Linked DNA regions of Homo sapiens. The protein of the gene in region 1 purifies or fractionates together with the protein of each later gene. This does not show direct contact. Each region holds a gene or a part of one and is shown on either strand. Other genes may lie near its edges.

What was found.
Region 2: the proteins of CLCN3 (region 1) and LYSMD4 fractionate together in Homo sapiens (co-fractionation; one large-scale study listed by BioGRID). This does not show direct contact.

Annotation. Positions count from the first base shown.
Region 1 is NC_000004.12:169,623,480-169,627,128, forward strand, and holds part of CLCN3 (H(+)/Cl(-) exchange transporter 3), read left to right. Parts: intron 1-3,649.
Region 2 is NC_000015.10:99,730,348-99,733,566, reverse strand, and holds the start of LYSMD4 (lysM and putative peptidoglycan-binding domain-containing protein 4), read left to right. Parts: upstream 1-1,559; 5' UTR 1,560-1,567; coding exon 1,568-1,849; exon of another isoform or gene 1,850-2,144; coding exon of another isoform or gene 2,145-2,209; exon of another isoform or gene 2,210-2,358; coding exon of another isoform or gene 2,359-2,394; exon of another isoform or gene 2,395-2,772; intron 2,773-3,219.

The DNA.
Region 1 (3,649 bases):
ACGTCCATCATATCACCTACTTGCCATTTGTTTGTGGTGAGAACGTTTAAAATTAACTTTTAGCAATTTTGAGGTATATAGTACATTATTATTAATTATAGTCACCGTGGCATGCAATAGATCTCTAAAACTTACTCCTCTAACTGAAACTTGGTATTCTTTGACTAACCTCTCTCCTTTCCTTTTTCCCCCTTCTCCCTAGCCTTTGTAGACCACCATTCTGCTCTCTGCCTCCCTGAGTTTGACTTTTTTTTTTAGATTTTACACATATGTGAGATCATGCAGTATTTGTTTTTTTGTGTCTTATTTATTTCACTTAGCATTATGTCCTCCGGGTTAATCTACGTTTTTGAAAATGACATAATTTTCTTCCTTTTAAAGGCTGTATGGTATTCCATTCTGTATATATATTACATTTTCTTTATCCATTCATCATAGATCCTTTTAGATATCTCTAATATCGACCTTAAATGCAGAAGATGAATCACTGTATTGGAAGAAAGAAAAGTAATCCTATAAAATCAGTTTAAAATTAGGTCAGTATAGCAAGGATTAGATATGTTGATTTTACTTTGGGTACTCTGAGAACTTGATTTAAACTGAACCTTGCCCAGTGCTAATGTAATCAGTAGACCACACTAATTCCTATGGTATAGTAGTGACTTTTTTTTTGAGATAGACTCTTGTTCTGTTACCCCAGCTGGAGTGTAGTGGTGCAATCTCTGCTCACTGCAACCTCTGCCTCCTGGGTTCAAGCGATTCTCATGCCTCAGCCTCTGGAGTAGCTGGGATTACAGGCACGCGCCACCACTCCTGGCTAATTTTTGTCTTTTTAGCAGAGACAAGGTTTTACCATGTTGGCCAGGCTGGTCTTGAACTCCTGACCTGAGGTGATCGACCCGCCTCGGCCACCCAAAGTGCTGGGATTACAGGCATGAGCCACCGTGCCGAGCCAATTTTTGTATTTTTAGTAGGGACAGGGTTTCACCCTGTTGGCCAGACTGGTCTCAAACTCCTGACCTCATGTGATCTGCCCACCTCGGCATCCCAAAGTGTTGGGATTACAGGCATGAGCCACTGCACTGGGCTGGAATACATACTAATTTTTAGAAAGCTATTACAGCATCCCTCTTGAGGAAAATGTATAATGTAATTTATGCTGAAGTCTACTGAAAGCTGTAGGGCCTATACAAATATAATGGCATTAATACAATAAAAACTGTGTTCATATTTATTATAATTTCTGGTACATTGTTAGCTATTCTATAAATGTTAGTAAATGAATAAGTTATGTTGAAATTCCTTTTCACATTTTTTTTTCTTTTGTTTGAGGCTCAGTCTTGCTCTTGTTGCCCAGGCTGGAGTGCAGTGGCGCGATCTCAGCTATCCTCAGTCTCTGCCTCCTGGGTTCAAGCTATTCTTCTGCCTCAGCCTCCTGAGTAGCTGGGATTACAGGTGCCCGCCACCATGCCCGGCTAATTTTTGTGCTTTTATTAGAGACGGGGTTTCCCCATGTTGGCCAGGCTGGTCTTGAACTCCTGACCCAGGTGATCTGCCCACTTCGGCCTCCCAAAGTGCTGGAATTACAGGTGTGAGCCACTGCACCTGGCCTCTTTTCACGTTTCAATCTGTGACTAGTACTTAGCACAGTTTTTACAATATTTATATGAAAATGCTCCTTACATACAAATGGCTAGCTCAGATTTTCACCTCTCTGCCATCGTTGCTCTTGAGACTTTTGTTCCATCTCTCTAGTTGCTGACATTGACAATCTTTTTCTTCTTTCACCCAGTTTATATCCACTTTTCTTTTTAGCTTAACAGAGAGTTGACTGACACACCTTTGGGAATTAGATGTGGTCCTCAGCTGTACCCAGTCAGTCTCCTTTATGGGAGAGACAAAACTTTGTTGGGAACCATGAAAAATTAGTGTGCATATCTCAGGCTGTGGATCCTTTCGCCACCCATTTCCATGGTTTTCCTATTTTTGCTCCCCTCCCCAAATTCTGGTGGCATATTGCTTAGTGTTTGCAGTTTTGGGGCTCAGGTCAGTGTAATGGAGGTAACCTTCTTTATAGTCTGACCTGGAATAGAAACTAAAGCCTCGACATATAATCCTAAAGTTGGAAAGAACACGCTGGTCTTGAGTTCTGTGAGTTGCAGGAGACTGAAATTTGTTTCTGCCAACTGTTTTCAGTTAATCAAGTTGGAACCTTAGTGGATATCTTAGATTCTTCTTTACCATTCCCTATATCTTATTAATTACCAGGTCCTCTTAAATATTTCTTCAAACTCTCTCTGCTTCTCAATATTGATGTGTCTTAGTGAGCAGGGTAAAATCACAGCCAAAGTATTTTTTAATTCTCTCACTCAACACAACAATAATTAACACAGAAGACTTCTGTGACCAGATGCTTGGGGGTTTCTCCCCCCACAGCAACCAACCAGTTAGTTCTGCAGCAGATACCAACTGGGTGCCCCCCGGTTCCAATACGGTGTACCTGGAGGTAGTGTCAGACACCACTGGTTGAGGGCAGTTCCCAAAAGACTTCCCCCACTTCCAGTGCTAATCGCAAGCCCCAGGTTATTTTGATTTTGCCTGTGCTTCTGATAACACTGGCTATAAATCAGGGATCCCATGACCCCCCCACTCCTTACGTCCTTGGGTTCAATTAATGTGCTAGAGCAGCTCACAGAACTCAGAGAAACACTTACCGGTTTATTATAAAGGATGTTCAAAGGATACAGATGAACAGATGCATAGGGGGAGATAGGGGAAAGAGCATGGAGCTTCCATGCCTTCCCATGGTGCGCCACCTTCCAGGAGCCTCCAATGTTCAGCTATCCAGAAGCTCTCTGAATCCACTCCTTTTGGGTTTTTATGGAGGCTTCATTACATAGGCACAGTCAACAACTGTGTAGAAATGTGATTGGACAAAAAGAGTATGACCTAACAGCACTAATAGACCCAGTGGGGAAACCCAGCAAGGCCTGCCTGTCCAACTTCTTCTGCCTGTCTGCAGCATTCCTTCTTCCAGGGTCTGGGGCAAGCTCCCTTCTAAAGGGAAGGTCTTATGACCCACAGTCAGACAGGCTGTGGAAGATTAGAGTTCTGCCTTGGGTTGGTGGAAAGGAGGGCAGGAAAAGGTCAGCAAGAGAAGAGATTCTGTTTTCTGAGGTTTAATGTGCCCCAACATTATACAAAAGACTGTAGTAAGGCCAGGCACAGTGGCTTACCTCTGTAATCCCATCACTTTGGAAGGCCGATGTGGGCGGATCACTTGAGGCCAGGAGTTCGAGACCAGCCTGGCCAACATAGTGAAATCCTGTCTCTACTTATATAAAATTAAATTTAATATTAAAAAAGAATGTAATAAGAGCTGTGGGACTTATAAACCAGGAACCATGGATGAAAACCAATATATATCATATCACTCTTAATTCAGTTATGCCCTATCTTACGTTTAGAATTGTTCAGACGTCTAGTCTCATCTCCAGCTTCTCTATCTGTAGTCCTTCAGTCTCTTACCCTTCTTATCTGGCTTTCACACTGCTGCTAGTGTTGGCTTACTAAAATTCATGTCTGATCATGTGATTTCTCTAAAGTTCTTCATGGTTTCCCCTGTGTATAGATGAGTATGTAAGTTTCT
Region 2 (3,219 bases), on another chromosome or scaffold:
GCCCCGCCCCGGGCCCTGTGGTCCCGGGATGAGCTCTCCGCGCAGCCAGGCTCGCTCCAGTGCCCGCCCAGCGCTGACTTCATTGGCTGCCTCCCCAGTCCCGCCCCCAGGGGGGCCCTGCTGATGTTCGTAGCCAATCCGCAGGCGCGGTGGCAGCTGCGGGTCGCGGGTCGCGGGTCGCGAGTCGCCGGTCGCCGGTCGCGGCGGAGCCTGGGCGCTGAGGTACCGGGGCCTGGACGAGGGGGCCGCGGTCTGGCTAGGGAGCCGCGCGGGCTCATGGCGGTACGGCGACCTGGCCTCGCTCGAGGGTTCGCGGGCGGGCCGCCCCTCCCCGGGCTCCTAGGGGGACGCTCCAGCTGGAGGGGCGGTGACCGCGACTGTCGTGGGCTGGCCCCAGGTGGCTAGGGTTGGGGGTCAGAGGTCAGAGGTTCTGCCCTCTGGAATGTTAGGGCCCCGCCCGTGGAGCCGTGGAGCCCTGGGGCCGGGCCGCTCCCCATTTTCCTGTCAGCTCTTGTTGAGGTGCCCCATCTTTTCGCAGAAGGGACTTGGAGGGAAGCGGGCCTGGAGCTGCTGCCGCCGCCCCTGAGCTCGGACGCGAAGGCTGGCCCCGTCCCCGGGCTGCCGCCGTGGTCCTGCAGGTGACCCTCAACCCCCCGAGGACCGCCGGCCGCCTCCCGCCTCCGGGCAGGCTCAGGAGCGCGCGGAGCGGGGTGTGGGCCTGTGACCCTCGAAGGCGTGGGCGGGGAGTAGGGGGTCGAGCTGGGGCCGCAGGCTGTCCCCGTACGGGCTGCTCCCCTGTGGCTCCGAAGCCACCTTTTTCTGAAGTTGTCAGCCCGCGTGTTTGAGATTTCGTTTCTGGAATCTCACGCGAACAATCTGGAGAGAGGAACAGGGGTCTTGCGGCTTTGGCTGTTGACTCAAGGGGAAAATAAAAACCAGACAATGGGGATGTAATGAATGCAAAGTGACCCGTGAGCAAACTGGACGCTTTTCTCCGGCTGACAGGCATGAGTTCTCCCCGTAGCTTGCCCCACATACTGTGAGTTAAACTGTGTCAAAGTAAGAGCAGTTTAGCCCCACAGTTCTGAGCAAGAGTCCTTAGCGCTGACCTTCTTAGTGAAGATACTTTGCAATGTGTAAAATATTGAATACAAAATTATTGTGCAAAGCTTCTGAGTTGAAGATTCTGAGTGCGCGGAGGCTGGCGGCAGCCCTTACTTGCCATTGCAAGGATCTCAACTTACTACTCTGAGAGCAAAAGTAGTTGTTTCTTTACAGATGTGGGTTTAGGGGAGACAGCTATGGATGAGGAACAGGGGCGGGGTTCGTTTTCTGCACAAAACGTATGCGATTAGAAAAAACAAAGGGTTTTTATTCTGCCTATCTTCTTCCATCTCAGCCAGCATAAGCACATTCTTTTTTTTCTGTTGATGATGTATGCTGAGTATTTGCAGCGATTAGGAAAAGGAATACTCTCTAACAAGACACTTCTCTTTAAACGAGGCGGTGGAGGGATGATTATGTCTTCTGTGGAATTAACCCTCCGGCTTGATTTTCAGTGAAGAAAATGAGGCACGAGGAATTGTTAACCAAGACCTTCCAAGGCCCAGCTGTTGTGTGTGGGACTCCGACCAGCCACGTATACATGTTTAAGAATGGCAGTGGGGACTCGGGGGACTCTTCTGAAGAAGAGTCTCACCGTGTGGTTTTGCGGCCCCGGGGCAAGGAGCGCCACAAGAGCGGTGTCCACCAGCCTCCCCAGGCGGGAGCAGGTGACGTGGTGCTGCTGCAGCGGGAGCTGGCCCAGGAGGACAGCCTCAACAAGCTGGCGCTGCAGTATGGCTGCAAAGTAAGACACCCCTCAGGGGCCCTGCCCCGCTCCGTTTCAAGGAACACGGGGAACTCACTGCAGGGTGGGTGCCCTTGCCGCCCTTCTTAACCCTGCCAGGCCGTCAGGAGAGGCCTGCTGTAGCAGCCAAGGACTCCCCTATTTAGCCAGAATTGGAATGCAGGTGGGAGTACCTTTAGTTCCCAACCCTGGCCCCCAAAGAGGGAGGGTTAGCGCATTTCTTTCTCTGCAGGGAACTTCTCCTTTTCCTGTTTTCTCCACACTGAAATTCTGAAACCTTTTTTCTTCTTTCGAGCACATTTTATTTTAGACCTAATGGGGCTGGAGATACCAGGCAGAATTTAATTCCGGATTTCTATGGTATGCTTGCTTTTCTCGCTGCTCTTATTTTTCTGAACCTTTCTTGGTGGTAGCTTACTTGACTTTTGGTAAAGTTTTACCTTCTCTCGTTTAGAACTGCATGGTCTTTTGTATGCTGTGTATCTATATAACCCTGTTTTTCTCTAATTATGTTTTCAGCATTCAGAGTGATTAACAATGGCAAAGTAAGTAGGAAAGTATTTCTAGAATTGCTGCATTTTCTCCTAGATTGCAACTGTTTCACTTTGCTAACACTGTGCTACAGATTTGTATGGCCTTCTCTAGGGGTATATAAGCTACTTAATTTAAGAAATCTCTTTCTCCTACAAGTGTCTTATCTAACAAGGTCCAAATGTCTGAAACATGTTGTGTGGGGTGTTGCGGTCTTTCAGGGAAATAAACAGGTTGGTCTCCGGGGACACATAGTGGTCTTTAAATTGTACTGACAATTATATTTGGCTCCGATAAGCAGCTTCTGCAGGCATACTGTGTGGCTTACAGAACATGGGCTGAAAAATGAAGCCTGTCCTACAAAGACCGGAATAGATGGAGTAGGCTTCTTGGTATGGTGATGTCTAAATCCGTAAAGAATATATAAAGCCTTTGATAAGTGATCAGTTTTCCTATTTGAAGTAAATAAATTTGCTCTTAATTTATTGAAGGCAGAGACAGAAAGATCTCAAGGGTCTCATGCATTAGATTCAGGACATAGTGAATTAAAAATGTCCCCTACCCCAAATCAGTTACAATAACAGCAGTTGCTGAATAATAATGGAAATGATTGATTTGATTGAGATCTGTTGGCTGTATTCACTTTCTAGTTTAAGTGGACTTAAGTGTTAAAAGTTTGGAGTTCATCTCTGATGCTTTTGGAAAGTTTTCAAACATTAGTTTGAGGGAGGGGTTACCCTTTGACTTACATTCTCCCTGCTTCTTAAATCTTCGTGTTTGATTATGAGAGGAGTTTGTCATGAACTTTGTTACTTGATAAAACTCACAGCATTATTCCT